4 linked regions of the Homo sapiens genome follow. The protein of the gene in region 4 interacts with the protein of the main gene of each other region in a pairwise test. Each region holds a gene or a part of one and is shown on either strand. Other genes may lie near its edges.

Region 1 (7,713 bases), on a different chromosome or scaffold from region 4:
AGATGATAGAGAGAATCATGAAGGCCTGCACTGTCTTGAGGGCATCTGTAGACACAGGACGAGGAGAACAAGGGCATGAGGTCACTCCAGGGGCTGAACATTCCCTGACCACACCTATTGTCAGCACTGGGTCAATATCTTTATATATACCTTCACTGGCATATGACAGGCTGTCACTGCAGCTAATGTTGGTACAGTTTTTCCAAAGACCTACTGATGCATCTACCGTATTGGAAACCAACCAGACCTGAAACCAGAAGGAAAGAAAATGTTAATTGAAAGCTGGCCCTCTGATTTAAAAATAAAATAACAAATCAGCTTGCATCGGGATCAGATTTTAATAAAGACATTCTATTTAGCTATAACTATGGCTATGCAGCTTATCTGTGGGCGGAAATAAGGTCCGATTAAAACTGAAGTTCACAAAGTTGCCAAGAGAAGAGACACAGAAGAATGTGAAACCCAGAAAGAAATCACCTAGCCCTCTTTGGGCTCCACATTCTTCACGACTTAACAAAAATGGAAGTAACTCAACCACAGTGGTTTAAAATTCTAAGGTTCTGAGAAACAGAAGTCCAGGATGAGGAAACTGGCTTAGGTATGTGCAGTTCATATACTCTAACAAGATTGTTTCATTTAAGTCCCTGGTTAACCAGGAAAAAAGTGAAATGTCCAACTGGAAACAATTAAGAAACATAAGACCTACTGGGAAAATAACAATGAATCTAGTGGTTAATAAGCCACTTTCATCTAAACAGAAGGATCAAACTTGACTGTCACAACATGCAAAGTAATTTGATAGTAAAATACTACAGCAAGTGCTTTCCTGTAGGGGCTACTAAAAGCTGAAGGGTGACCTGAATGGATTCCCCCAGACTGATCATGGTGCCGCCATCCCTTCCTGCCTGGCCCAAGAAAAGGAATTATCCTTCTGGAAGAGAAAACAAGTGCAGTGTCCTGTCTACACACACACAAATGCACACACTGGAAAGGTGGGGCCGGGAACATGCATCACCTACGCCAATCCCTGCTCTTCATTCAATAAACAACTGTGTGCCTAGCCTTATATTAGGGGCTGGTAATTCACAGATACGCAGCGCTTTGGCGCTCATTAATACACTTTGAAGAAGCTTATCAGATTTATCTGGATAGATATAGGAGTTGACATATAGAATGGCTAAATTACAAAACAAGGAGGTCACGTGGGCGGGGGTTGTCTTATCACAGTTATTCTTAATTAGCCTTGCTTATGATCACACCCACTAATGTTTGCAAAGCTCTTCTATCTGAACTTTAAAACTCACTTATACTTTAACTGTGATAGGGACCTAAACAGATTCTGAAACCATGGTTTGCCTGCCTAGTGATTGGTGGCCTTGGTTTTTAGGTCCAAGGAGCTGGCTTTTTTCTGAGAAAAGCACAAGTAAAAGCAAATTGGGCGCTGTAAGCCACCACTAGAGGTCAGAGTAGCCCAGGGTTCAGAGAGAAAAGACACTACCTCCATTTTTTTTTTCTCGTTTTGTCTGAGTTAGTTAATTCAGTGGCACTGGGTTAATCTTGCAAAACTCCACTTTCACATGCTACTCTTTGCTCAAAATTTGAATTTGTCAGTCTGGCATCCTCTTCTTCCCATCTATCCTTCTAATCAAGCTTCTCAGAAGGAGGGGAAGTTCGGCTCCAGCCACATAGGTGTGTGTCCTCCTTATCCTCTGACCAAAGCTTGTCCTTCCTACATATGCTCCTTTGCTAGCACTCCCACCTGAATGCATCCCTATGATCCTTCCACCTTCCCTCTTTCACTAAGAGAAACCTCAGCCATCTACCACTCCTCCAGGTTCACCTCAAGCTCCACTCACCCCTGCTGCTGGGAAGGCTCTTCTAGAGACCGAAGAAGCTGCACTAGATCCTCCAGCCCTTAACCACCTACAGCTCTGGCAGGATTACTCCTGTGGACATTCACTTTTATCCTCCTGTTATTTAATTGTTTGAAGGGCAAGCGTGTGTTTATTTTGTTTTCCCACAACTGAGCTGTAAGTTCATGAAGGGCAAGGGCTGTGGCTTAAACTTCTTTTGTGCACTTGATGTAAATATTCGAATGATTTCTCAATGAATGAATGAACAAAAGAACATTACTCACATTGGCAATGGTGCTAACAAATAGCATAATAACAGTAGCGATGTGGACCACAAAGATACCAGCCAGCAATACCAACATGTTGGCTCTTTTTTTTTTGGTAACTTGTGAGCAAAGAGAGTTCTGAAAAGAAAAAGAAAGGGACAAAAACGGTTACTGTCAGATTCAATAAGACGACTCAGCTTTCCCACACGTGTGGGCTATCTGCTAACATGAGGAAGAGCTGCACTAAAAACCATCACAATCTAATCATAAATTCCTGAAAACACCCCTGTAACCTAGTTCTGATTTGCCTAAGTGCCTATTCATCCAGTTATACATACCTACATGGAAACAGAATTTGGTTTCTTCTTGGGTATTTACATATTCATTTCTCTAATACATTCTATTTCAAAAAAGGAACAAGAACATTTTATGATAACTGTTCGTATTTTATTTTGTTTGTGTTTTAGAGGTTAAAAATAGGACTTTGATTTTCAAAGAAGTAGGCCTTTATAATTTCCAGGTCTCTGAACAATGTCATATAAATGTCCATTTTCCACTAGGAAAATGTCCATGCTTTCATCAAATTGCTCACCCAGCACTTTTAATAGAAGTAAATGCCTTCTGAAGAATAGCAGCTATTACTCAATGCCCATATACTGAATAGGCTACTAATATGATCCTGGGCGAGATATAAAATGTGAGAGGCACAATTCTATTATTATAATGCTGTTTGGTTTTCAATAATTATAACAACCTAATTACAGTTTAATGGTCTGGTCACCCTGTGACTGAGCATTTCAGACTAGTATTACTACACCTGAGCCTTTGGGCTCTGTGTGCCTCATGGCAGGAAGCCTGCCATTGGTCTGGGCAGAGAGTCATATTTTCCACAGCTCAATGTGATGGTTCTGGGGGCTTTAAAAGTAATGCAACTTGAGATAGCACCAAATGTGCCTTCTCCTTGTACATGACATTTACACAAATTCCAATCCTTCAGGACTCAATACAGAAGACAGGCAAATGCATAAATCACAGGGTGGGAGGATTGGGAACTAATATCGATTAAGAATGTGCATGGATAAACAAAAGCTTTCAGCCATAATCACAGCAGAGAAGGGAGCCCATTGATCATAAAGCCTAGGAAATAAAGGAAGTGTGAAGGATACACATGGGGGAGGCTATTCTGATTTATGTCAGCTACAGAAGGAGAGCTTTGTCATGCCTAAGACTGTCACAAAGCAGTGCAGGCTCAGAGGGACATCAAAAGGAAAGGGCTTGAGGTTATTCACACCCTAGACAGAATGGATGTGTGGATGCCCCAACCAAGGGAGGAGATGGCCAGGCGCATCCTGCAATTGTTCCACTGCCCTCTCTCACTCCACCTAATTTAATTGATGCTTTGAATGTGCTTGAGGCACTTTCATGCCACATCAGGTATTTATTAGAGAGCACTGATACTATAATTCCAACACTTCACATGCCTTTTATCTCCTCTCACTGTCTTTATCAGGCAACCAAAAATCTAGAGTGATCTAATATACATCAGGGTGCCTTGCTCTCTGCAAGCAAGGAATGAGAGGCAGACAATGGCTTCCACCATTCTCCCTGACCGTCTCCAACAGCCCCTTCCCAATCTGGCCACTTCCTTCCAACCCAGGCTGTTTTTTAGGAATGTGTCCAACTTAACTGTGAATGCAAAAATTATGACGTTTATCCTGCCTCTTCAGGGGAGAGGTTGGAGCTTTCATGTCTGCTATTAGTAATCCCCCCACACATTCAAATTCATTTTTGCTTTTCTCAGGTTCTAGCACACCTCCCCAATTTTCTGCTTGACTTAAATGCACAGTAAAAAGAGATTTTTGAATCAGACAGAGGATGAATTAGAATCATATCCAGTTATTTGACCGCTCATCTGTTTCCTCATTTAGAAAGTGGAAGTCGCAATGTCAATTGCAAAGGGAAATGTGAGGATGAATTCAGATTGTTTATGTAAAACACCTAGTGTCTGACACATGGCAGCTACTAATAATGGGGTTGCTTTAGCTGCGGTTATTATTATTACTATTATTCATAAGTGAAGCCGGGTAGCTGTTGCCAACCCAACCCAGTTACTCAATCGCTAGGCTGCCCCATGTTAAGTGCAAGTAATAAGATATCTGCTGTCTAGTTCACGAGGCAGGGTGTATACAATCCTTTCGGTCCTCTTAGAAATTGTCATTTGTCTAACCCTTGCCCCTTAAGGGGGGAGACCTCTAAGAGCACACCCTCAGGAAAGACCAGGAGAAAGTTCACTTTCTCAGCCCAACTTCCTCATACCTCCCAAGATTCACACCTCACCAGATCCTGATCTCCTTGCCCCCTATGGGGAAAGGAACAGGCTGATTGCAGGGAATTACAAATATTACATAACGAATACTTATGTTTAATCCTCCTCGGGCTCTTCAAATGACTTTCTTGTTCCTGTTGCTTCTAATTTACAAACATCCTCTTCTTAAAAGGGGGAAGGGCTGGAGGGGCCAATGACAGAATATAATCCACCAAGTGAGGCCACTTAAATGAGTCACAGAAAACATTCCCTCCCTGATAGGCTGTTGGGAATTCAGCAGCATTTTGTCTCCTTGGGTTGCTCTGTAACCCCTAAAGTCAAGTCTGATTTCCTCTGCCCAGCTCACACTCTCTGTCTCAATGACCCCTCCCACGGCACCTCTACCTGGGCCCATGCATCACAGCCCTGGTGGTGTGTGCGAGTGCCTGGCCCCTGGATCCACCTGACCATATGCCCTGCCCATTGCAGGCTGGAAGAATGGATGTGAGAATCAAGCAAAAGAGCGACTCTCTTTCATCTTAGATTTTTGTGATGGTGCCCTCCCTGTCTTTTCACCACGGAAAGAAGCAAAATGTCTTGAGTTAGCAAGCGGTCTTGTGCAAAACACACAGTTCTCTCTGTTTTTAGCTGCTGTATCCAGCCAGAAGGAGGGGCTGTTTAGCTTAAGCTACAACTTCTCCATCTTTTCACTGGCCCATTATTTGTCAGGTTTTACTAATATCATTCACTGTCAGTTTAGAGGGGCTTCCATTATTTTCAATGGCCTTCCCCCCAACACAGGTGAAAACAGAATGAGTTATCTTCTTGAGTTTCTGGGCTGAATCATCCCTAGTTACCCAGTCTTTACACTGTGCTAGATACCTCCTGCCCCCAGGGAAACCCTCAGTCTGGGAGGAGGCGATCACTGAGGTCTTTATGAAAAAGCCATTAGTGGTAACTAATGGGTAAATGTCTGGGCATTTATCAAATAGCAGAGTATAATAAACAGAAGAACCCCTGCTCCTGAAACTTCCACCCACCCATTACTTGCAAGGTAGCTTGTGGGGAGATTCATTCTCTGCCCCATTGTGAATCTTGCTTCATACAAAGGCACTGAAAAAAATACCATTTATGAGAATTTATACCATTGGAAGTATTGGTGGCTACTACTTATTTCTTAGCAGTGTGTTTCACTAAAACAATAGTAGACTTCTCCCTCAGCCCTCTCTAAAATGATATGGGTGGCACTCTCCAGTGGAAAGCATACCCCTAGTCCTAGTGAGGCAGCGCAAACCAAGATGCAGAGAATCACAGCATTGCAATTCTGAATACTTTGAAGCAAGACCCGCTTTTTGCAGAGCATTTGGTGCACTGAGCAGTTCCAAAGTTGTAGGGGAACGCTCATAACAGCGTTCATTTGTGGTGCTTAGACTCCCAGACCTAGGCCAGCAGAGCTTATCAATTCATTGCATTTTTAAAGAACAGGCCGTCCACTGACTTCTATGTGGATGCCAGGAACACATTTCTGTACCCACCACTGTGAGTGGAGGATGATCTCCTTCTTAAGCCTCATCTACCTAACATACATGGCACAGGGGCAGTTAGGGGCTGGGTGGGAAACTGAGGAAGGTATAGGACCCATGTATGTTGACTCTGGAGAGAAGTATTATTAAGAGAAATGGAGATCAGCACCTCGGAGCCACACACAGGTCTCTGATATCCCTTTTCTGTTCTTCTTTCTGCCCTAACGGACAGGCTTGCAGTTCCCTACCTCTGACCACCATCTTTTGTTTCTGATCACTGTTCCTCCTTTTCTTTCTGCATTGCCCAGACCACACTAGAGCAGAGGTGTCTTTGTGCTCCTAGCTCTAATGCAAACCTCACAAACACTGACCATTCAGTATTCAGATAAAGTTCTTAGCTAACAGAATAGCTAATATAGTCAGTAGAAATAACCCTGAGGGAGTTCGAGATCATCCTGGCTAACGTGGTGAAACCTAGTATCAATTAAAAATACAAGAAATTAGCCGGGCGTGGTGGTGCACACCTGTAGTCCCAGCTACTGGGGAGGCTGAGGCAGGAGAATCACTTGAACCAGGGAGGCGGAGGTTGCAAAAAGCCAAGATCGCTCCATTGCACTCCAGCCTGGGCAACAGAGCAAGACTCCGTCTCAAAATAAAATAAAATAGAACCCTGAGGATTAAAATTGCTCGTGACTATAGCTCTAAAGGACTAACTAATATGAGACATGAGGGAAGGGAAAGAGGGATAACCAAACCTCTCAAGTTATCTCCATCCATTTAAATCTTTATTGGCTTCTTGCCTCCCTCTTACACACCACACACACACACACACACACACACACACACACACAAATGAAAGAATCAAAGGAACACAGCCCTGAGACTGCCATGCATTGCCTTGTTGCCTTTGTTCAGGCAGCCTAACACTTTTAGGGTTCTCTGACCAGTGAGAAATTACTCAGGCCCCCATGGGAGCCTTTCCTTTTCTGGTGGGTAACTAAATCTGCAGAGACTTTGAGAAGAATTGACTTCTAAGGACCAGAAGGGAAGTTTAGAGGTGCATAATTTGGTTCCCTGATTGCTAACCTAGGAGTCAGATAACTTCTTCCTGTCCAGAAGTCTGTGTGTTCACTGAACTGCCATGGGGCCTGGCGGCAGCAGCAATTCTTTAAGAGTGACCTAAAACACAATAACTGGGAGCAACACAATAGAATAGAGCAACCAAAAACCCACTTCCCCAGTGAAGGAAGTGGTCAAAATCCTGGGGCTTGAGTCACTGAAGAATTAGCCCTAGCTGAGGGGTGGGAGGGGAGCATGCTCAGAAATCAGGAGCTGAAGACGATGCAAACACTGGGGGAGGCCCTCAGGGCTCAAATTTCCATGATTCATTTGAGAGTGGGTGAGATTCTCCCAGAATGAAAGGCATCATGGAGACCTTCTCTACAAAAGGGCACGAGAGAGCTTTCTGAGAAGCAGGGTATGGATCTGGCTGGCATTTCCCTGGCAGCTTAAGAAAGGCCAGGATTTTTCTGGGGAGAAAAGAGCAGTAATGACCACTGCCAAATGTCCTATCTTCCCTTCCCCTCATTCCACTTTTGTTGCCCAAAACATCACAGTCCTACCCTGAGTTTCTACCTCCATTACTTATCTCACATCCTTCCTTATGTTCTATTCCCATTGCTACTGTCCAGTTCAGGTCCTAGCCTGACCATGGCATCAGCCTCACCCATGACCCTGTCTCTGAACAACTCCCCTCTAACATATCT
Region 2 (7,713 bases), on a different chromosome or scaffold from region 4:
AATTCTACATCCACCGGGTGTGGTGGCTCACGCCTGTAATCCCAGTACTTTGGGAGGCTAGGGTGGGCCTCACACTGACCATAATTAACACACAACGGGAAACATAGTCAGAGGGGTGCAGTGGCTAAAGCCTGTAATTCCAGCACTTTGGGAGGCTGAGGCAGGAGGATTGCTTGAGCCTAGGAGTTTAAGACCAGCCTGGGCAACATAATGAGATCTCATCTCTACCAAACAAACAAAAAAATTAGCTAGGTATGGTGACTCACACCTGTAACTCCAGCTACTTGGGAAGCTGAGGTGGGAGGATCGACTGAGCCCTGAAGATTGAGGTTGCAGAGAGCTGTGATCACACCACTGTACTCCTGGACTGCTTGAGTCTAGGAGTTCGAGATCAGCCTGGGCAACACGGCAAAACCTCATCTATACAAAAAATGAAAAAAAAATTAACCAAGTGTGGTGGCACATGCCTGTGGTCCCAGTTATTTGGGAGGCTGAGGTTGCAGTGAGCCGAGATGGTGCCACTGCACTCCAGCCTGGATGACACAGTGAGATTCTGTCTCAAAAAAAAAAAAACAAACAAAAAAACCAAAAAACAAAAAAACATACACTGGGGAAAGAACCAGTCTTTTCAATAAATGGTATTAGGAAAACTGGATATCCATATGCTGAAGAATGAAACTAGACCCCTCAAATCTCTTGACATATACAAAAATCAAATGAGAATGGATTAAACACTTAAATGTAAGACCTAAAACTATGAAACTACTATAAGAAAACATGGGGGAAACTCTCCAGGATGCTGGACTGGGCAAAGATTTCTTGAGTAATGCCCCCAAAAGCACAAGCAACCAAAACAAAAACAGATAAATGAGATCACATCCGGTTAAAAAGCTTCTGTACAGCAAAGGAAGAGACAACCCACAGAATGGGAAAAAATATATGCAAAGTATCCATCTGACAAGGAATTAATAACCAGAATATATAAGGAGCTCAAACTCTGTAGGAAAAAAAATCTAATAATCCAATCAAAAATGGGCATTTCTCAAAAGAAGACATACAAATGGCAAATAGGTATATGAAAAGGTGCTTAACATCATTGATCAAAGAAATGCAAATCAAGACTACAATGAGATATCATCTCATCCTAGTTAAAATGGCTTTTTAAAAAATATAGACACAAGGTCTCGCTATGTTGCGCAGGCTGGTCTCGAACTCCTGGGCTCAAGTGATCCTCCTGCCTCGGCCTCCAAAAGTGCTGGGACTACAGGCGTGAGCCACTGCACCCAGCCAAAATGGCTTTTATCCAAAAAAAACGGCAATAACGAATGCTAGCGAGGACGTGGAGAAAAGGGAACCCTCGTACAATGTTGATGGGAATGTAAATTAGTATAGCCACTATGGAGAACAGTATGAAATAGAACTACCATATGATCCAGCAATCACAGCTAGGTATATACCCAAAAGAAAGGAAATCAGTTTATCAAAGAGGTATCTGCACTTCCATATTTATGACAGCACTATTCACAACAGCCAAGATCTGGAAGCAACCAAAGTGTTCTTCAACAGACAAGTGAATAAAGAAAATATGGTACATATATGCAATGGAGTACTATTCAGCCACTAAAAAGAATGAGATCCTGTCACTTGCAACAACATGGATGAAACTGGAGAACGTTATGTTAAGTGAAATTAAGCCAGGCACAGAAAGACACACTTTCCATGTTCTCACTCATTTGCGGGAACTAAAAATTAAAACAATTGAACTCATGGATATTGTAGAATGATGGTTACCAAAGGCTGGGAAAGGTAGGGGGGAATGGGGAAGGTTAACGGGTACAAAATATAGTTACATAGAATGAATAAGCTCTAGTATTTGATAGCACAAAGTGACTAGAGAATAATTTATTGTACATTTAAAAATATAATAACTAAGGCTGGACGTGGTAGCTCACGCCTGTAATCCCAGCACTTTAGGAGGCCCACGCGGGCAGGCCGCTTGAGGTCAGGAGTTCATGACCAGCCTGGCCAACATGGCAAAAACCCATCTCTACTAAAAATACAAAAATAAGCCAAGTGTGCTGGCTTGCCACCATAGTCCCAGCTAACTCAGGAGGCTGAGGCAGGAGAATCACTTGAACCCACGAGCCGGAGTTTGCAGTGAGCTGAGATCCTGCCACTGCACTCCAGCCTGGGTGACAGAACAAGACTCTGTCTCCAAAATATATATATATGTATGTATGTATGTATGTGTATATGTATATATATAACTAAAAATAGGCCAGGCACAGTGGTTCATGCCTGTAATCCCAACACTTTGGGAGGCCAGCCTGGGCAACATGGCGAAACCCCATCTCTACTAAAAATACCAACATTAGCCGGGTGCGGTGGCGCACGTCTGTAATTCCAGCTACTCGGGAGGCTGAGGCACAAGAATAGCATGAACCTGGGAGGCGGAGGTTGCAGTTAGCCGATATTATGCCACTGCACTCCAGCCTGACTCTGTCTCAAAATAAATAAATAAATAAAAGTATAATTGGAATGTAATACAAATGATGAATGCTTGAGGGGATGGATACCCCATTTAGCCTGATGTGATTATTATGAATGCATGGCTGTATCAAAATACCTCATGTATCCCCTAAGTATATACACCTACTATGTACCCATAAAAATTGGAAAAAAAATTGGCCAGGGGCAATGGTTCACACCTGCAATCCCAGCACTTTGGAAGGCTGAGGCAGGCAGACTGCTTGACCTCAGGAGTTAGAGATCAGCCTGGGCAACATAGTGAAACCCTGTCTCTACACAAAATAAAACAAACAAAAATAAGTAAATAAAAAATAAAATTAGCTGGGTGTGGTGGCACACACGTGTAGTCCCAGCTACTCGGGAGGCTGAGGTGAGAGGATCGCTTGAGCCCAGGGAGGTAAAGGTTGTGCCACTGCACTCTAGCTTGGATGACAGAGCAAGACCCTGTCTCAAAAAAAACAGACCACTGGGACGGACAAACACACACACACACACACACACACACACACACACACACACACGCACACTAGAGCCTTGGCTAACATTTTAAAAATCTCACAACTTATTCCCACATGCCCGTCAGCTTACCCCTTTGCTGATGTAGCCTGACAGCAGGAGGGAGCCTATAATAATGAGAAAGGCGCCAATCAAAAACAGCACAGTGGCAAGTGCGATGGCCTTATAAGGGATCTTAGGAGGGGTTTTCTTAAACTGGAAGAGAAATAGAGATGAAAAAGACAACGAAGAACATTAATGCAAATACCTGGGTTCAAACATTTAATTAATTATTTGTAATTTTTATGTTTTTGTTTGTTTGTTTTGAGATGGAGTTTCGTTCTTGTTGCCCAGGCTAGAGAGCAATGGCGTGATCTTGGCTCACTGCAACCTCTGCCTCCTGGATTCAAGTGATTCTCCTGTCTCAGCCTCCTGAGCAGCTGGGGTTACAGGTGCCCGCCACTACACCCAGCTAATTTTTTTGGTATTTTTAGTAGAGACAGGGTTTCACCTTGTTGACCTGGCTGGGCTTGAACTCCTGACCTCAGGTGATCCGCCCGCCTCGGCCTCCCAAAGTGCTGGCATTACAGGCGTGAGCCACCGCGCCCGGCCTAATTTTTATGATTTTAGAGACGGAGTCTTGCTCTATCACCCAGGCTGGAGTGCAGTGGTGCAATTACAGCTCATTGCAGCCTCGAACTCCTGGGCTCAAGCAATTCTCTTGCCTCATCCTCTCAAGTAGCTGGGACTACAAGTATACGTCACCATGCCCAGCTAATTTTTAAATTTTTCTGTAGAGACGAGGTCTCACTATGTTGCCCAGGGTGGTCTCCAACTCCTGGGCTCAAGGGAGTCCTTCCACCTCTGCCTCCCAAAGTGCTGGGATTACAGGTATAAGCCATCAAGCCCAGTCTCAAACACTTTAAAACAGGGAGGAGAGCTCGCACCTGTAATCCCAGCAATGTGGGAGGCTGAGGCAGGCGGATCACTTGAGTTCAGGAGTTTGAGACCAGCCTGAGCAACATGGTGAAACCTCGTCTCTACAAAAAATACAAAAATTAGCCGGGCGTGGTGGCATGTGCCTGCAGTCCCGGCTACTTGGGACGCTAAGCTGGGAGGATGGCTTGAGCCCAGGAGGTGAAGAGGCAGCGAGCTGAGATTGCACCACTGCACTCCAGCCTGGGTGACAGAGCCAGAGCCTGTTTCAAATACAACAACAGCAAAAACAGGAGGGTAATTAAGAACCAAACTAGATACTTTATGTGTCTTAAGTATGTCCTACCACCCAGTGCAGCTCTGAGAAATAAAAGGGACTGGCAAGAGATGAAGCTCTAGTTATTGCTCTCACAGTTACTCAAAGGAATCTCAGAGGAATGTCATTCACTCTAGTTCGAATCTCATTCCATAAATCATTCATTGTATCATAAGAAACTTTTCTTTAAAACAAAAACAGAAATGACTTTACAGTCATTCATTTGTTAGATATATATTTATTAACTGCCTGGCACATAGATGGCTGTACTAACTTATGGGGATTTAAGAGATCCTGTCTCTACAAAAAATTTTAAAATTAGCTGGGTGTGGTGGCACATGCTTGTGGTCCCAGCTATTCAGGAGGCTGAGGTGAAAAGACTACTTGAGCCCAGAAGGTCAAGGTTACAGTGAGTCTTGATTGTGCCACTGTACCCAAGCCTGGGCAAAAGAGCAAGACCCTGTCTCAAAAAAAAAAAAAAAAGGCTGGGCGCGGTGACTCACGCCTGTAATTCCAGCGCTTTGGGAGGCCGAAGTGGGTGAATCACTGGAGGTTAAGAGTTCGAGACCAGCCTGGCCAACATGGCGAAACCCCATCTATACTAAAAATACGAAAATTGGCCAGGCATGGTGGTGCATGCCTGTAATCCCCCAGCTACTAGGGAGGCTGAGGTACAAGAATCACTTGAACCAGGAGGGGGAGGTTGCAGTGAGCCAGGATTGCACCACTGCAGTCCAGCCTGGGCAACAGAGCAAGACTACATCTTAAAAACAAAACAAAACAAAACAAGAGGCTGGGCAAGGTGGCTCACGCCTATAATCCCAGCACTTTGCGAGGCCGAGGCAGGATGATCACCTGAGGTCAGGAGTTCAAGACCAGCCTGACCAACATGGAGAAACACTGTCTCTACTAAAAATACAAAATTAGCTGGGCGTGGTGGCGCATGCCCGTAATCCCAGCTACTTGGGAGGCTGAGGCAGGAGAATCGCTTGAACCTGGGAGGCAGAGGTTGCAGTGAGCCGAGGTTGTGCCACTGCACTCCAGCCTGGGAAACAAGACTAAAACTCCGTCTCCAAAAAAAAAAAAAAAAAAGGAAAAGAAGGCAATTTCAGCTTATTCCAAATGATTAGTTGTTTGTTCCACATAGCAAGTAAACCTGCCTTATGAACAAATTCAATTCAAGGTTAAGATTCAGAGACAAATTTTCCAAGGTTTGGCTCATCGTTGTATCTGACCTAAGTGGCTGGAAGCTTCCCAGATCTTTCCAGATCTATTTTTATCTCTCCTTCAAATGTGGGTCCAAAGAGTAATTTATTTATTTATAAAGGATGGTTTCCTGCTACTTCCTCGTTGGCCCTAGTTCCACGTAGAACATTCTATTGTAAGGGGAAGTGTGCAAAAGGAGATGCTGTAGTATTGACTAGTTTATAAATGGTTAGGGTAGGATACAAACTTAATAAATACTGTGTTTTACTTACTATTTATCACAAAGAATACCTTTAATAAATTGGATCTCATGACATCAGGAAAGAAGGAAGATTCCCACAATCTGCTGGCTTTAGTAATAAGTTTCTCCCTTAAAAGGTGAACGGGCTTTGACTAAAGTGTAAATAAACAGTGATAAAAAAAATTCCACCTAACAAAAATTTTAAAGTTCCTTAAAAAAAGAAACAACAACAAAAAACTCCACTTAACAAAACACAATCTGATTAGTTTCTGAATAAAGTAAATAAAACCTGTAACTACAAGGCTCTCGCATTACAACTAAAAATTCTTAGAAATGGACAATACTGGAATTGGTTTGAAACTACCCTGCCACGGCCCTCTTCTGCGATTATGGCTGAAAGGGTCTCAGAGCTGAGTTTTCTTCTTGTTGCTCCTTCTAATCCCCAAGGACAGTTAGCAAAATCTCCATCTGGAAGGTCTTCCTGCTAACTTAACAGAAACACAGCCAGTCAGTCTTGTCAGTTCTCTTCTGCATTTACCTGAAGGTCAATGTAGCCATCGTCTGTGCTGGAGAGCCTTGAATATTTCACTTTACTACTGGGGATTCCAGTAGCCAGGTTGGTACGGGACGGCATCATAACACGCTGACACAGCTACAGTTTAAAAACAAAAAACCCGTTATTGTCTGTAGATGACAATGGTGCATTATAGCCAATGAGTTCAGGATTATTAGATGCTGTGCACTGGAGTTCTGGGCTGCCATGTCAGACTAGCAATGGGCAATTTACACTTCACTGCTAAATTTTCATTGTGTCAGAGGCATATGCATATGGAAAACCAGATATGCCTCTGACACAGTGAAAAGATTCTCACTATGTATTAAATATCTAGTCTGGTCTGTCCTTGTAGAATGACAGTGAAGACACTCACCAAGAATCACATTCCAGTTTATTTTGCCACCAAGATTCCCTGACTTTTAATTTTTCCAAAGTCACATAGAGACTAGGTAGAATAATGGGGACTTAAATCTAGGTCCACCTGACACCACAGCATTGCCTGTCCCCTGCTCCCGCTCTTAAGAAAAAGCAAGAGGAGCATATACTCAAATGATTCTCTTGTTTGACAGGGAGGGAGAAGAGGGCAGAGAATGGAATACACTCACATCAGCATTTTGCCTATTTCCCCTTGATAGAGATCAACCTTTTAATGCAAAAGATCTGTAAAGTTTCTTGCCGTAAATTTGTGGGGTTTTTTTGTTGTTGTTGTTTGTTTGTATTTTTTGGAGACGGTGTCTTGCTTTGTCACACAGGCTAGAGTGCAGTGGGTTGATCTCAGCTCACTACAACCACCGCCTCCCAGGTTCAAACGATTCTCCTGCCTCAGCCTCCCGAGTAGTTGGGATTATAGCCATGCACCACCATGCCTAGTTAATTTTTGTATTTTTTAAGTAACGAACTGGTTTTCACCATGGTGGCCGGGCTGGTCTTGAACTCAGTTTTTTTTTTTTTCTTTGCGATAGTCTCACTTTGCTGTCCAGGATGGAGTGCAGTGGCGCAATCTCCATTCACTGCTGCCTCTGCCTCCTGGGTTCAAGCAATCCTCCTGCCTCAGCCTCCTGAGTAGCTGGGATTACAGGCGTGTGCCACCACGCCTGGCTAATTTTTGCATTTTTAGTAGAGATGGGGTTTTACCACGTTGGCCAGGCTGGTCTCGAACTTCTGACCTCAAGTGTTCTGCCCAACTCAGCCTTCCAAAGTGCTGGGATTACAGGCCACTGTGCCGGGCCCCTTGTAAATTTGGATACAGGCCTGGCTATACTAGTGCCTCCAGAAGCGCCCACCTCTCTGTCCCATCCCAAGCACTGAAAGTAGTGATTTCATTTTCCTAATTACTTCTGTACCAACCTTAAGAAACGGAATATGGTATAATATCTTACAAAAAATTTTAAAGAAAGAAAGAAAAAAATGGAATAACAACCTGGCTTCTTGTTC
Region 3 (7,713 bases), on a different chromosome or scaffold from region 4:
CCCCCCCAAACAGCTCAGCATTAGAGTCCCACAGTCTCTGGAGCAGGCCTCAGTAGAGGAGAAAGCTACTGAAACCACAGCTTGGTATCAGGTCTCCCCAGTCACCCCGTGCCAGGTCCTGGTGCCAGGCTGAGTTCCTTCTTCCACATCATCTCACTTTCATAATTGCATTTCACTCTCACAGGTCTCCCTGGGCCTCTGGCCTGACCATAATACCCTTGAATCACAACCCCTGGGATCAGCACAGTTGTTCTGGGAAAGAAGTGAGGCATAGAGGAGATCCTTGCCCATATTATAAAATTCCCTTCAACTCTTTCTCTGGCCCTTGATCTATGGCCCTGGCCATACTAGCCATGCCTTTAGCAAAGCCCTGGTCTCCCCACAAGGACTCTGGGTGCTACTTACTCAGGTGGTCGGGTGTCTGGCCCCAGGGACCTCTGCAGGGAGATCCGGTCGCTGGCAAAGGCATTGAAACAGTGCTTCTTATAGCCTTCTTCCTTTTCCTGGGTCTCCAGGGGGGTCCACTTGCTCTTCTGAAATGCTTTTCCATCTGCCCCAGGGGCATTGGGGTCCTGTGGTGGCCGTTCCCAGAAGGGCTTCAGTTCAGCTGGGGTATAGAACCCAGGGAGGCAGGACTGGTTTATGGAGAACAGAGTCTGCTGGGCTTCTGGAGCCCTGATTTGGAGCTTGGGCATTGAATCTCTAAGGTTGTTCATGGCCTCCAGCATGAGGTCCAGGACGTGATCCTTCCGGCTCACCAGGGACTTCAGCCACGGCTTCTCTGTGGCCTCCTCTCTGCTGCTCACATCCCTATGCAGGAGGAAGAGGAAGAGCACAAAGGCGCAGCCCACCATGGCCAGGCGCAGGGGCATGTGGCGTCTGCGGAGGAGCCTCATCCTCCAGAACCAAGGGGCACCCCAGCTGCGTCAGCTCTGAGTCCTGAGCCCAACCCTGGAGATAGCTTGATACGTTGTGGTGGCCACAAGCTGGGGCCTCAGCCTGAGAAAGGAGGGGACAAGAGAGAGAAGTGAGCCAACACAGGGTAAGGAGGGAGTCGGGTGCTTGGGGTTCGAGGCCAGGCTCTGTTGCTGAGTGGTGGCATCACCTTATTGGCCACAACTTTCCCATATCTACATTTCCTTCATCCATAAAATGAGGAGACCGGAGGCAGTGTTTCTTTCCTGCCCTAAGATCCTAATATGCATGGATCTAGAGTCACTGGAACACTGAAACACTACATGAGATTTAATCATTAAACTCATGAGATTTAATCATTATGGCTTTGGGAAACAACTTGGTATTATCAAGAAAAATTTGAAATGAACACAGCCTGAGCCAGCAATTCCACTCCTCATTTTATATCCCAGACAAACTCTGGTAGATGCAAACCAAGAGGTATGTACAAGAACATTTAAGCCAACACTGACTTAAATGGCAACAAACTGGTAAAACCTTTAAGTCCACTAGCAGAATGAATAAATAAAGTGCAAAATACCCATACCGTGCAGTGCTCTACAGTGATGACCAAGAATGAACCACTTCTCCATGCAACAATGTGGATGTGTTGTTGGGTGAAAAAAGCAAGTGACAAAAGGATACATACAGTATGATTCCACTTATAGAAAATGTAAAAACATGCTAAAATTAAACAATATCTTGTTCTTGAATACAAATATGTGATAAAGCTATAAAGAAAGCTAAAGAAGACTAGCCTGGCCAACATGGTGAAACCCTGTCTCTACTAAAAATACAAAAATTAGCTGGGCGTGGTAGCGCATGCCTGTAATCCCAGCTACTTGGGAGGCTGAGGCAGGAGAGTCACTTGAACCCGGGAGGCAGAGGTTGCAGTAGGCTAGGATCATGCCACTGCACTCCAGCCTGGGCAACAGAGCAAGACTCCGTCTCCCCACGAAAAAAAGAAAGCTAAAGAAATGACATAACCAGTTTCTGAAGATGAAGAAAACGGTACAGGATTAGAGATGGTTAATGGGGGACTTCAAAGTGTTTTTTTCTCAAAGTGGATGGCGGCTGCTGGTGGACTGTAATTCTTTAGACCCTATACGTATTTTATAAATATTTCTTGGCCAAGCATGGTGTAATCCCAGCACTTTGGGAGGCTGAGGTGGGAGGATCGCTTGGGCCCAGGAGTTCAAGACCAGTCTGCTCAACGTATTGAGAGCCCATCTCAATAAAAAATTTTAAAAATTAGCGAGGCGTAGTGGTGCACACCTGTAGTCCTAGCTGCCTGGGAGGCTGAAGCAGGAGGACTGCTGGAGCCCAGGAGGTTAAGGCTGCAGTGAGCTATAATCGCACCATTGCTCTTCAGCATGGGCGAGAGAGAGATTCTGTCTTTAAAAATAAATAAATAAAAGTTATCTGTAATCTACTCCTATTTAATAAAAAAGAATTTAACAGAAACCTAAGATTTCATGACAAGACATTCCCGGCAGGGCTGGGCATGGGCGTTCACCAGGCTCCACCCCCAGGCATGTGGATCCATGCCCTAGAGGATGAATGCTTGCAGAACTTTCTGTGCAGAGTTCTGGACACATAAGCTCACTGGTTAAGCACTAGACATCAATGGCAAGGGACCTGGGCACAAATTCCAGTTCTTCCTCTTCTAGTAGTAGCACCTACCTCCTAGGGTTGTTACAAGGATTATGCTCCTTCCCCACAAAATTCATGGACAAAGCTTAGCAGTCTCTGCACATGGTAAGTTCCCACAAAGTGTTAGTTTTGATCATTAGCAGCTGTGTGACCCTTGGGTAATTTACTTAATCCCTCTAAGCCTCAATTTCCTCATCTATAAAGTGGGGGCAACTAATACCTAACTCACAGGGTTGTGGGGAGGATTAAATCAGATAATGTAGGTAAAATGTTTGGCAGAGCACCTGTCACACTAAGCCCTCAATAAATGGTATCAACTATTTCTATTATTATGATAAATCCCTGCTTCACTTCCCAGCAGTTATCCTCAAGCACCTGGCCCTTGGCCAAAGCCACGTTCATTACTCCCTGCATGTTTTGCTTAAAAATAACTCTGGTTGTACTATTTAATGCTATTGTTTAAACGCACAAGCTCCTGCCTGTGGAGAGGCCTGGTGTCTGAGACCTTGGGAGTATGTGGCCATCGTGATCTCAAGTGGGGAGGTGGATTCATTCTGGACTGGGGTACAAATGTGGCTTCTTTTATAACATCAGATTCAGCAGCACCGTCAAAAATCAAACAAAAGAAATCTCTTTGAGCATCTATTTTGTATTAACTATTGTCTAGGAGATAGGAGAGATTTGTTTATTCCACCAGTATTTACTGAATAACTGCCTCTACCAGGTACTCTGCAAGAGGCGGGGGACACAGAGAAGTGCAAGGCCAGCCCTCAAGGATCCTACAGTCAATTGGGGGCATCAGATTTTAAACAGAGATTACCCTGTGAGAAGCAGAATCAAAGAGGTACCCTTGAGTGCTGAAGGAGCCGGCATGCAGGAAACTCAGCAAATGGGGGAGGGCAACATCTGTGAAGAAATCTCACGGGGGCAGAAATGGGCCGAACACTAACTGGCGAGTAGGAGTCAGCGAGGCGAGGTGAGCACATTTCAGGCAGAAGGCACAGTACCTGCAATGGTCTAGAGGTGGGAGACAGAAGAGCCAGTCACAGAACTGTAAGCAGTCTGGTATGGCAGGAGTAGCAGAAATTGGGCCTACAGAGGTGGCTGAAACCAAGTCCTAAGGGCCTTGTTCATCATGCTGAGGAGCATTTGCCCTTGACCCAAGGCATGGGGAGTAATAAAGCGTTAAGCTGGGAGCCCAGCATTACAGGAAGAGCAATATGACAGCGGTGGAGGGTATCTTGGAAAGGGACCTGCTTGGCAGCTGGATGACCCATTCGGAGTCTGACCCAGGAGAGTTAGTAGCAGTGTGGATGGAAGAGGGAGGGTATGGTGCCTAGGAAGACCCCCTTGGGTGATGGGGTGGGACAGTTTACCCCGTCTGGTACACAGAGGGACACAAAGGCTCAATTCCTTTCCCCAAGGGATTTGAAAATCTTATTGGAGAACGAGAACTGATAGCACTGACCAGGTGAAGGAAGCACCTGACCAGGGGAGATTCAGGAGCAGGAAAAGGACCTTTCACTGAATACTCTTTTGTACTTTGAACCCTGACTATATTACTTATTCAAAAATGAATAAAATTAAAGCAGAATAGCACAGACAGTAAGAGCTAAGCTGAGAGAGGTAGAGTTCCCTGTGGGTTTGAGGAAGGCTTCGGGGAGGAAATGGGGATTCAGTGTAGCAGGAGTTTCTTGTCACAGAGGTTGAGCTATGCTGGGGCTAGCACAGGGGGATTTGCTTGAGCTAGACACCTCATCAGTTCTGGAACTGTCCCGGCTAAGCCCACACAGAGGCCTGCAGAATGGGGGAGTGTTTGCCATGACAGCTTTGAACCGTCCTGCAGGCTTCGTCTTCCCTGCTACTTTCCATCTACCTTCCCACTCCAGCAAGAAAGAGGGAGCACAGTTAGAAACAAAGGCATGGTAAGATTGTAGTTACTAACTGTTGCCAGTGCTCAAGACTCACCCCCTCCAGGAAGGCCTCCTGACTGATTCACTCAGAATCACCTAGGTTACTCCAACTCTTTCATCCTGGCACTGCCTCGTGGTCCCTCACAGCAGGGCCTGTTTTTGCTTCTTTTATTTTCCCTGGAGAAAGAAATATAGGGTTAAATTGAGCTCTTCCTAGGCATCTAATCTCTCAATCCCATCTGGCTGCCTGAAGCTTTCTCTCTCAAACCTACAGTTCCTCAAGGTACTAACCACATCCTGAACCGAAATGAGACACCTGGGATTAGCCTTGGTGGTGAGGCACTCATTCTCTAGTTTGTTTGCTTAGCATGAGGGCAACAGGAAGAGTCCCTTAGAAGAGACACAGAATCTAGTGCAAGCCACAGGACTTTGGGGTTAAGGATTTCTGCTCCCTGTGTAGGAGATGATTCCCAGAAGTATGGTTAGCAAGGTCGTGGAGGTCGCCCCTCCACCAGCCTTGGAGAAAGAATAGCTGCTATTCTTTGCTATTGTTTCAAGTACAAAGCTTCACGAGATCCGCCCCTGGTGTCTTGTATATCTCCCTCACCTTTGGGCTCCCACACCTGGCCTCCTGCTTTCCTGGCAAGTGTGCCCGCAGCCCCCATCCACTCATTTCCCTCTCGCTGTGGCTCAGCACTTCTTCCCAAGTCTTTTTCCTCCAGCTACCCTTGGGCCTGCAACTCTTTGGACCATCCTTGGCTTTGATCCCGAGATGATGCCAGAAATCCTCTCTGAAAAGCCTGCCTAGATTGAACAAATGGGATTTGCTTCCCTGGCCCCACCGGCCAGAACACAAACTTACCTTCTCTCACTGGTGTAAGGAACTGAGGCTTTACCCAGCCCAGCTTGTATCAAACTGCTGATTACAATCCACTGTGATATTATAAAATAAATTCAGAGTGTTGCAAATTAGCATTCAAAAATTTCTTTAAAAGACCAGTTAGGACCAGGCACAGTGGCTCACACCTGAAATCCCAGCACTTTGGGAGGCCATGGTGGGCAGATCACTTTAGGCCAGGAGTTCAAGACCAACCTGGCCAACATGGTGAAACCCCTTCTCTACTAAAAATACAAAAATTAGCCAGGCATGGTGGCATGTGCCTGTAATCCCAACTACTCAGGAGACAGAGGCAGGAGAGTTGATTGAACCTAGGAGCTGGAGGTTGCAGTAAGCAGAAATAGCACCACCGTACTCCAGCCTGGGTGACAGAGCAAGACTCTGTCTCAAAAAAAAAAAAAAAAAAAAGACCAATTAGCAAAAAGAGACCAGTTAGCTGGGTGTGGTGGCATAGGCCTGTAATCTCAGCTACTTGAGAGGCTGATGCTGGAGGATTGCTTGAGCCCAGGAGGTTGAGGCTGTAGTTAGTTATGATCATGCCACTGCACTACAACCTAGGCAATAGAGCGAGACCCTGTCTCAAAAAATAAAAATAAATAAATTTTAAAAACCCAGAATAGAATGAAAAGAAAATATCAAAGTGCATCATGTATCACATGTAACACAGGCAAGTATTCGTTTTTTCTTTCTTTCTTTTTTTTTGGAGACAGGGTCTCATTCTGTTCCTTAAGCTGGAGTGCAGTGGTGCAATCTCAGCTCACTGCAGCCTTGACCTCCTGGGCTCAAAGGATCCTCCTACCTCAGCCTCTGGAGTAGCTGGGACCATAGGTGTGTGTCATCAAGACCGGCTAATTTTTATTTTTTGGTAGAGATGGGGGTCTCACTATGCTGCCCAGGCTGGTCTTCAACTCCTAGGCCGAAGCAATCCTCCTGCCTTGACCTCCCAAAGTGCTGGGATTACAGGTGTGAGCCATCATGTCCAGCCTGAAAAGTAAACTTTTATTTTAATGTTTGTTTCAGTCTATTAAAGATACACACTGCCTGATACAAAATTAAAATGATAAATTTGTTATTCAAAATTCATACAACTAAAGACAAAAGAAGTTTAAATGATTCCATTTTCAAATGATAGTTTTTATGGTTTGCAGAATTTATGCTTGTAATGTGATTAAATTATAAAACTGCCCTAAGATTTTTGGGATGCCCTGTCACATATACACAGGTACCGGGTCTCGCTATAAAGTATATTTCTCACTTTGGTCAAGTCATAGAAGTTTGAAAGCCAGTGACACAGTCCAAACCCCACAGTTTATATTCTAGCCCCCCTCCAAAAAGCCTTCTCAGATCTCCCAGCAGAATTCATCTCTTCCCTGCTTTGCCCCCTTAGCACCCGATTTTTATTTGTACTCCAGTCTCATCACAGCCCACCCTGTGTTTATGGACTCCTGGACCAGAGAGGCCATGCCATTTCCAGCTTTTTATCACCTACAAAGTCTAGCACAAGTTTTACATATAGCAGGTGTTCCATAAACTTTTTTTTTTTCTCTTGGAGACAGGGTCTCACTCTGTCACCCAGGCTGAAGTGTAGTGGCATGAACACAGCTTTCTGCAGCCTCGACCTCCCAGGCTCAAACAATCCTCCTATCTCAGCCTCCTGAGTAGCTGGGAATACAGAGGTGCGTGCCATCAGGCCTGGCTAGTTCCACAAACTCTTGTTAAATGAGATGAGGTTGGAAGGGTTAAATGTGGAGCACTGGCTTCACTAAATGATGTTCTGAATGAACTTACTGCAAGAAATACTTGACTTACAGGATATTCTGCCATTACACATTAGCTTGCTGTTTTGACTAGGTCTGTCTGTGGGTCTAACACCCTCATTTTATCAACGGCGAGGCCAGAATGGTTAGGTGACTTCTCTAGCAACACACAGCTAGTGGCTCCCAGGAGTAGAACCCGATCTCTCAACTCCTAGACCACTACTCTGTTTACCACACTCATACCCGTGGAGGTTGAGTAGGGAATTTGGGGACCAGGCCTGTCCTCCCTGAGCCTCCCCGACTCCACCCTTTGATCCCCTTCCTGGCATTTGCCTTCCTCCCACTCAAGGATACAAATGCTTTAAAGATGTGGAGACTGGAAGTCCCAGGCAGCCTTAGCTTTTGTGAATGTCAGAGTCAGCCATCCAGAACATGCCCTAGCTTTCCAGGTGGCCTCTTTGTAACAATGTTTCTTTCTATTTATCAGGTGAGCTGGTCACCTCCTTAGACGTGGCAGCAGGAAGCAAGCAGTCCTTAC
Region 4 (7,713 bases):
AAACACTTCCTGAGCACCTACCAAACACAGGTCACTCTGCCAGGTGGCAAGGATATAAAGAGGAATAAGACATAAGCATAGGAGAGAGGAACACAAACTCAGTGGCCTCCAGATAAGTGCCCACCTCAGTTCACAGGGCCTGCGAGGGGCTTGATTCCACCTGGACCCAGCCCCTATGCTAATCCAGCCACCAACCTCAAGTTTGGGCCATATTGATACCCCTCCCACCCACCCCTAAGGAATCCCAACATATCAAAGCTGAAGGGGATCTTAGAATCCAACCGAATCATTTTACAGATAAGGGAAGTAAGGGAAGCTGAGGCCCAGAGAAGGGAGGTATCTTTTCCAGGCTAACACAGCTGCTTAGGGGGAGCGCCAGGGCCAAAGCCCCGGTGTCCTCACTCCGGGTCTGGTGCCCTGAATTCATATGACTCCCCTTTCCTTCACAGCTGGCAAGAAGTTCACATCTGCCACATAGCAGCCAGGGACCCTCACCCCTGCATCCTGGCCATGCACACTTTGCCCCATTTTGCCAGGCCCAGCACCAGCATGGGGTAGGGGGATCAGGCTGAGGACGCTGTTGTGCACACTCTTCACAGGCCCAGCCCACACCACCCATCGCCAACCCTAGATTTCTCCTTCTCAGAGGTGTGTGTAGGGGTAGAGACGTTGCCGCGCAGAAAGTCTTCTGCAGCAAAGACGTGGATCCCTAAATAACATTTCCAGATTTTGAATGAGGACAAAGCCCTTCAATCTCGTATCGTTTTTGTTGACGTTACTAGCTTACAGTGTATAAAGCGCTTTCTTTCTAAAACAGCAAGATGAAACAAGCTGAGTTTTATAATACAAGGAAGGGAGAAGCACCGCAGTGGGAGTTCTCAGGCCACACAAAGGCAAGACCCTTCCCCAGGAGTTTGGAAGGCTGACGTTCCCTTTTCTGGTTTGGTCGGGTTTGAGAAATGCCCGCCTCTCCCTTGCGCAAGAGTCTCCCCGCCCAGGTGAAGGCGGGTCTTGTTGCCATGGCGACAGCGCGGTCGGGTTAAGGGGCTGCTCTGGCAACCAATAGAAGCTAGGAGAGGGCGGGGACAACTGGGTCTTTTGCGGCTGCAGCGGGCTTGTAGGTTCGTGGACGCGGCATTGGGGGAGGGGACGGGGGTCGCGGGGCTATTGGGGGTCCCAGTCCGGCTTAAGACCTCTGGGCGTGGTGGGCACCGGCCTTCGCCGTCGGAGCAGGGGTCCCAGACTCGCACCCAAAAGTTCCCGTCGGGCCCGAGCGGGGAGGAGCTGCGGGGCGGGCAGAGGCGGAGATGGCGGAGGGCGGTGGGACGTGATGCGCGGGTCAGAGCCGGGCCTTGAGAAGGAACTGGAGGCCCCTGGCAGCGGTGTCCCCTCGAGGACCCCTCTGCCGGGCTCACCAGGTGGCTGGCGGAGAGCCGGAGAGTTGGGCGGGAGGGAAGCAGGGTTTGGCGACCAGGTTTAGCAGGCCTTGGAATCCTGGAGCCCAGCCCCCAACCCCATTCCCACTTGGCCGGATGGTTAAGGGCCTAGCGTGCTGGCTGCGGTGTGGCCACCTTCCCCTTCTCCGACTCCGTATCTCTTTTTCCAGGTGTCCGGCTTTGCTGGCCCAGCAAGCCTGATAAGCATGAAGCTCTTATCTTTGGTGGCTGTGGTCGGGTGTTTGCTGGTGCCCCCAGCTGAAGCCAACAAGGTGAGGGAGGTGAGCCTGCAGCACCTGGTCACGACCACAGTGCACGGCCACCCTGTCTACAGGGCTGACTCAGAGGTAGCCAGCTGCTCCTTAAGCCTGCCTCTCACTCACCTATGGGCCATACTTCTTTTAGTGGTCTTCCTTCAGGTTCAAGGCTGCTGGCCTCCCTAAGGATAGTGCGGGTGAGGAGTGAGGAAGGGTGGGGCACAGAGCACTGGCTCACTCTGATCAGACAGATCAGTGGTGGACTTCCAGCAAGGAAGTTTGGAGAAGTTATCTAAGTTCTCCATACCTTCCTTTGCTTTGGACCAAAGTATGTTTTGTTTCAGATATTTTTGGATTTGGGAGTATTTGCACATAAAAAATGAGCTATCTTGGGGAGGGGACCTAAGTCTAAACCTGAAGTTCGTTTATGTTTCATATATGCTGTATATACATAGCCCGAAGGTAATTTTATACAATATTTTCAATAATTGTGTGCATGAAACAAAGTTTATCTACACTGAACCATCAGAAAGCAAAGGCGTCACTATCTCAGGCACCCATGTGGATAGTCTGGTTGGTTGGCATCACCACCATTCCTGACAATGAATTTATATGCTACCGATAAATATTTTCTTACGTTACACATAAGTTCTTAACGGTAAAAAAATATGATGTACTATTAACACAGTGAAAATAAATGATGTGTTCAGGGTAACTAAGCACAGTAGCATCACCAGAATACCTGTATCAGCTGTTAGACACAGCAACATAAGGCTTTCTGTCTCCTGCTGTGATGCTGTGTTTTGATTAAAGGTTACTGTGCACAGTATTTTTTTAGGTGAGAAGTAGTATCTGAAGCAGTAGAGGGACCAGAAAGTGGGTCCTCTAGAGATGAGGAGGCATTCTGCCAGATGGCTTTTAAAAATGTTTTTGCCAGTCACCTGATTCATTAACAAGCTTTTGTCTTAGAAGTCTCTTTGATTTTATAGACTGACACGATTTCTTGTTCTGTTATGAATGCGCTCTGCTATAGTCTTTCAAGAAGCCCGTCACTCATTGTTACCATGTCTGTAGGTGCTTTTCTGCAATGTTAACATCATCTTTGTGGTCATGTCTGTGCTTAACAAGTTTTAGATTGGGAGCATTTCGAATTTTTGTTTTAGGGGTGCTAGTACTACCACCTGTAGTAGCAGTTGTATCTATTACTCTGCTTAGGGAGAATCAAATTACATGACAATGTAAAAATGCCCTGTAAGTGTAAAGTCCTATACAGTTTGAAGTTTCCATTATTAAGGGTGACCCACCTAAGTTCTGGGACTCCTGAGATAACTTCCATTCTTTATTGCTACATTCCTGTGGAGCTGTTTGGGTAGATCTATGGAACTAAAGATCATCCAGACTTTGAAGTAAGGTTAAGGCTGAGAGTTTGTTTCCATTCTCTCCTCAGAAATCCTAATTAGTAAAGACATTTATGGTGATATCTCTTACTCATTCCAGAAGGGAAGAACTTTCAAAGGGGTTGCTTGAGTATTCCCACAGAAATGATCCACTTTTTCTTATTCACCCTCGCCCTTTATGTTTCCCCAATCCTACCTAAGAAGTTGGAGAAGGAATGTGGGGAAGAGGGTGGCTGCCAAGTCCACTGGACAGAGGTGCACACACAAGTGTGGGGTCTGGGGTAGAGGACACACACACACACACACACACACACCCATTTCCCCTCATCCCTCTCCCCGCATTCCTCTAAGTACCTGCTTTGGGACTGGCAGGCCTAGACAACTTTCTGTGAGTCTCATTTGCCATCTGGACATTTTTCTATCTTTAGGACCCGGTGCTGCAGCTTGCTTCCTACAGTGGCAGTCCTTGCTGGATTTGAACTTGGGGATGGAGAAAGCTCAAGAGCATAGATATGGTTCACCTAACAGGATGGGGAACAGAAAGTTGACAACCTTGCTAGAGCCTGAACCCCCTGAACCCCAGGCAGGGTCTCTGCATACTTGACATGTGCTTTCTTTTCCAGAGTTCTGAAGATATCCGGTGCAAATGCATCTGTCCACCTTATAGAAACATCAGTGGGCACATTTACAACCAGAATGTATCCCAGAAGGACTGGTAAGGCATTACACGCAGGCCCCTGGCTGCTATACCCAGTTGAAGTTATGGGTGTTTACTAGAGTTCTTGGACCCTGGAGGATAAGCATGCTCTCCCATTCCTATGGAGAGCCTTTCAAAGGAGTAATTATTCATGTCACAGAACCAATTTCATAGTTGTCAACTGTCTGTGGAAACAGGATCCAGGTGTCTGAATTCCAGCTGAGTGGTCCCTGGCTAGAGGAGTGGATTTTGTTGTTTTGCTTTGAATATTGGTCTTTAGTGATGCATACAGAATAGTAGTAGAGAAGTTGGCAAAGGTAGGTATTCTGACCACATGCTGTAGGATACCTAATGCTTTTGCAAAGCTGTGTTACATGTGTTATTCTGTGCCAGTCTTATAGCATCCTTGTAAAGTAGGTGGGATGGATTTTGCTCCCATTTTATAATAGCAGAGACAGAGGCCCAAAGAAATAATTTAGAGTGTTGAATTCATTTCTGGGTACCTCACTTTTAAAAAGAGAAGAATAACCCAGAATTCATTCAGAGAAAGGAGACTAGTGCGGTGAAGGGAAGTTTTAGCACATTGTCCTGGAAGGAATGGTTTAAGGAAGCAAGGAAAGCCTAAAGAGGAGAGGACTTGGGGACACACGATGATTGATTGAAAGCTGGCATGTTATGGGAGGTGGGACATGTGGGAGCAGGTACTGGTGTGGATCAGTTATGTTCAGTGGGGTTTCTTGGTGTAGAGTTGGGGCCAAGGATAAAAGCTTCAGGGAAACCGACTTAAGCATGAGTTGAGGGAGCATTTCTAATCTAGGCAGTTTTGGGAGCCAGGAAGCTCCGTTCTTGGAGGGCCCCGAGCACAGATGGGCTGAGGTCACTGTAGAAGAGATCAACATCAGATGAGAGGTCCGGGTCAGTGCTGCCTCTCCTGCTTTCTCAAAGCAGATGAGCTTTGAGAAAATACACATTTCCAGTACCACCACCACTGCTCGATTTTGATTCTTCAAATACGGAGTGAGGGTGAGGGGAGGCAGTAACCTTTCTTTCCTTTGGTGCTTAGGATGCAGTTGATCCAGAGCAACACTCGAGAATTTTGAAACTAGTTGAATTTCCAACTCTGAGACTGTCGGTGATTTTCTGAGAGGCAGTCTAGTTAGATAGACAGACTCTGTGTTCCACCTTCCTGACTTCAAATTTAGCTTAGCTGCTTGTTAATTGTGTGACAAATTACTTAATCTCCACTGCACTTTGATTTCCTTATCTATAAATAGTGGCAGTATTTTCTGTGTTAAGTATGTACGTGTTTGTGTGTGTGTTGTGCGTGTATGTGCACAGGTCAGTAACTATAGCACTTAGAACAATACCTGGCACACAGTAAATGCTTATATAAATGTTAGCTGATATTAATGTATATTATCATGCCTTACTGGTGGCCACATAGATAGTCATGGTCAAACTTACACCACAGACTGAGAAAATGGGCTCCTCCTGAAGCACTAGCCTTCTACTTAGGAGAATTCCAAGTAACCCCCTTGTATCTTGTGGTTATAGTTCAAATAGCATCAGTAAAAACTTAGATGGGCTGTCTTAGCCCTTCACCAGATAACAAGGCTATATCCCAAACTCCTTATGCAGGCAGACACTTGCAAATTTAGGAACACTCTCTCTGTCCTGGAGCTATAGATGGCCTGAAAACCCAAGGTTGGATGCCTGCAGAGGACGGAGTCCTGTCTAGACCTCTCAGGCTGTAGTTTATCTCCTTCTTCCCCTCAGAAGTCAGAATTAAGGGGCTGCTTGATGAATAGCCTTACATCAGGAACCTCAGGGCAGCTCCATTAAGGGTGGTGGGTGTAAACTGAGGCTGGAGGAAAGACTCCAGGATTCTAGGACCCAGTGACACTGACCTTGACTGGGAGTCATCCTGTGCTTGCCTGGAGCCTCTTAAGGGTAGGGTGGGGCCTTGACATTGATCTGAGTACCTCAGTGCTAGGGTTAGAGGAGGCCAGTTTGAGTGGGTCTTCTGGTCTCTGCCACATTTTCACTTTGCTGTCACGTTGGTCCATGCTAAAGAACACTTGCACCCTTCTCCTTGGTTGTGCAGAGTAAAGCCAGAATCATCTGACATGCGGTCCTCAGGTTTAATGGCCAAGCCATGTATGTTCCTGTGTTTACAGGTATCCTGCCACCTAGTGTTGAGAGATTATGACCATATGTGCATAAAAAGGCAAAAACCCCAGCTTTGCCCCATTGGTGGGTCCGGCAAGGAGATGTGTTATTAGAGACACTCCCAGAGCAGGAAAGCACTGAATAAGTTGGCTAGTTCCTTGCCTTTCAAACTTGTTAAAATAGAACTTCTCTGCAAACAAAATCCGTTTTGGAAACAAAATCTATAAAACATAAAAGTCGGAATTGCTCTGCCTGAGAGGGAACTGTCCCTCAGCCCCTCCCTGACTACCACCCCACCGTACAGTGGTTCCTGTGGGTCCCAAAAGAGTACAGTTTGAAAGACACTGACCAAGTTCAGTCTCCATTTATAAATGAGGGAACCGAGGCCTGGAGAAGTTAAATAAATTGCCCCCAATCACAGGAGAGTTGGAGACAGCAGAACTATTTCAGCTCCTTATTGCTGTTCCCCTGGGTAGCAAGATCCCACATTGAAGAACTCAGGTCGCCCTTCCAAACTGCCCCTGACACCTTGGCCTTGTGAGAAATCCATAGATTCCACTGCAATACTGGTATGACCTTCTAGACCCAGGACCCAGTGTAGCTCAGGTAAGGGAGGAATCTGGAGGCTTGTAGAGACTTCCTGGAGAAGGGAAGATGGCATTGCCTCTGGACAGGAATGGCAGCCAAGTGCCCTGGGTGACCCTTTTTCCGCTGCTCCCAGCGGAAGCAGCATGCAAGGCCTGAAAGCAGTACTTCCGGTTACAACAGGGGAGACCTGCTCAGAGCAGGGAATAACATGTTGGACACAGAGGTGGAACTGGATCATGAAAGGTTTAGATAAACTCATGTATGCCACATATGGCTTTTTGGGAGAACAGAGTCCTTTAGAGCACATCCCATTCTTAATCCAACACATGGTCTTTATATCACACACCCTTGATGCTTCTGCCAGAAACCCAGCCCTGTAGCTCAGAAGGGAGCTATGCTTGACTCTTGCAGGACTCCTGTCAGAGCTGGAAGGGCCTTTTAAAGATTATCCGGTGCAACCGCTTTATCTCAAAGAGAAGAGAACGGGCCCAGGGTATAGACACTTGGTGGCAGAGCCAGGACAGAGCCCAGGTGCATTGCAGCATGACACCTGCTTCACCTCTGCACACCTCCAAGGGGTTTGGATTTTTCCATTGGTAGTAATGAAGGTGCATTCTGTAGAGTTTTTTGCTTTGTCAGTGTGGTCCCTGAACCAAACAGGTTGGAACCATGCTGATCTGAGGAAGGCTGGGAATGAGAGGCCTGAGACAAGCCAGGTACCAGCCCAGGCCCCACTGAGGCTGAGTCAGAAGTAAAGACCTGTGGCTGAGGGTCTAGATTTGGGTTCTGGCCTCACTACCACTATGGAGATGCCACTTTGCCTCCTAAGCCTCTTTCCCTGTTTTTAGATGTGGAACCTATGATCTTTATCCCACCTTACGCAAGAGTGCTGTTAGATGAAAGTGGGTCTACTCTTCCTTTGGGAATCATGTAGTTACTAAGCCTGCTCTGGCCAGCACCCAGCTAGGTACTGGGAATATGGAGATGTATAAGACATAACCCTGTGTTCAAGGAACGTACATCTCCTGGGGAGACAGCACGAATAAAGATTGGATTACAATGCAGTGCATTGGCGGGGGGTTGGGGGGAGCTGGCTATTGGGCACAGGTGGCTAAGCTGAGAGTTAAAAGATGAGGTGGCAAAGCCATGCCCTCCTGGTGAGAGTGTGG

Evidence for each region.
Region 1: the proteins of TMEM9 (region 4) and EMP1 interact in binary tests that used the Homo sapiens proteins (3 or more experiments, as listed by UniProt).
Region 2: the proteins of TMEM9 (region 4) and TMEM230 interact in a two-hybrid assay, tested with the Homo sapiens proteins (one large-scale study listed by IntAct).
Region 3: the proteins of TMEM9 (region 4) and GALNT6 interact in a two-hybrid assay, tested with the Homo sapiens proteins (one large-scale study listed by BioGRID and IntAct).

Annotation. Positions count from the first base shown.
Region 1 is NC_000012.12:13,206,013-13,213,725, reverse strand, and holds part of EMP1 (epithelial membrane protein 1), read right to left. Parts: intron 2,258-7,713; 5' UTR 2,216-2,257; coding exon 2,138-2,215; intron 248-2,137; coding exon 151-247; intron 46-150; coding exon 1-45.
Region 2 is NC_000020.11:5,103,071-5,110,783, forward strand, and holds part of TMEM230 (transmembrane protein 230), read right to left. Parts: intron 6,376-7,713; coding exon of another isoform or gene 6,361-6,375; coding exon 6,262-6,360; intron 3,241-6,261; coding exon 3,118-3,240; intron 1-3,117.
Region 3 is NC_000012.12:51,378,886-51,386,598, forward strand, and holds part of GALNT6 (polypeptide N-acetylgalactosaminyltransferase 6), read right to left. Parts: intron 4,698-7,713; exon of another isoform or gene 4,576-4,697; intron 3,625-4,575; exon of another isoform or gene 3,428-3,624; intron 1,000-3,427; 5' UTR 897-999; coding exon 406-896; intron 1-405. UniProt on the Homo sapiens protein: Catalyzes the initial reaction in O-linked oligosaccharide biosynthesis, the transfer of an N-acetyl-D-galactosamine residue to a serine or threonine residue on the protein receptor. May participate in synthesis of oncofetal fibronectin.
Region 4 is NC_000001.11:201,147,853-201,155,565, reverse strand, and holds the start of TMEM9 (proton-transporting V-type ATPase complex assembly regulator TMEM9 isoform a precursor), read left to right. Parts: upstream 1-1,091; 5' UTR 1,092-1,642; coding exon 1,643-1,708; coding exon of another isoform or gene 1,709-1,783; intron 1,784-3,713; coding exon 3,714-3,805; intron 3,806-7,713. UniProt on the Homo sapiens protein: Transmembrane protein that binds to and facilitates the assembly of lysosomal proton-transporting V-type ATPase (v-ATPase), resulting in enhanced lysosomal acidification and trafficking.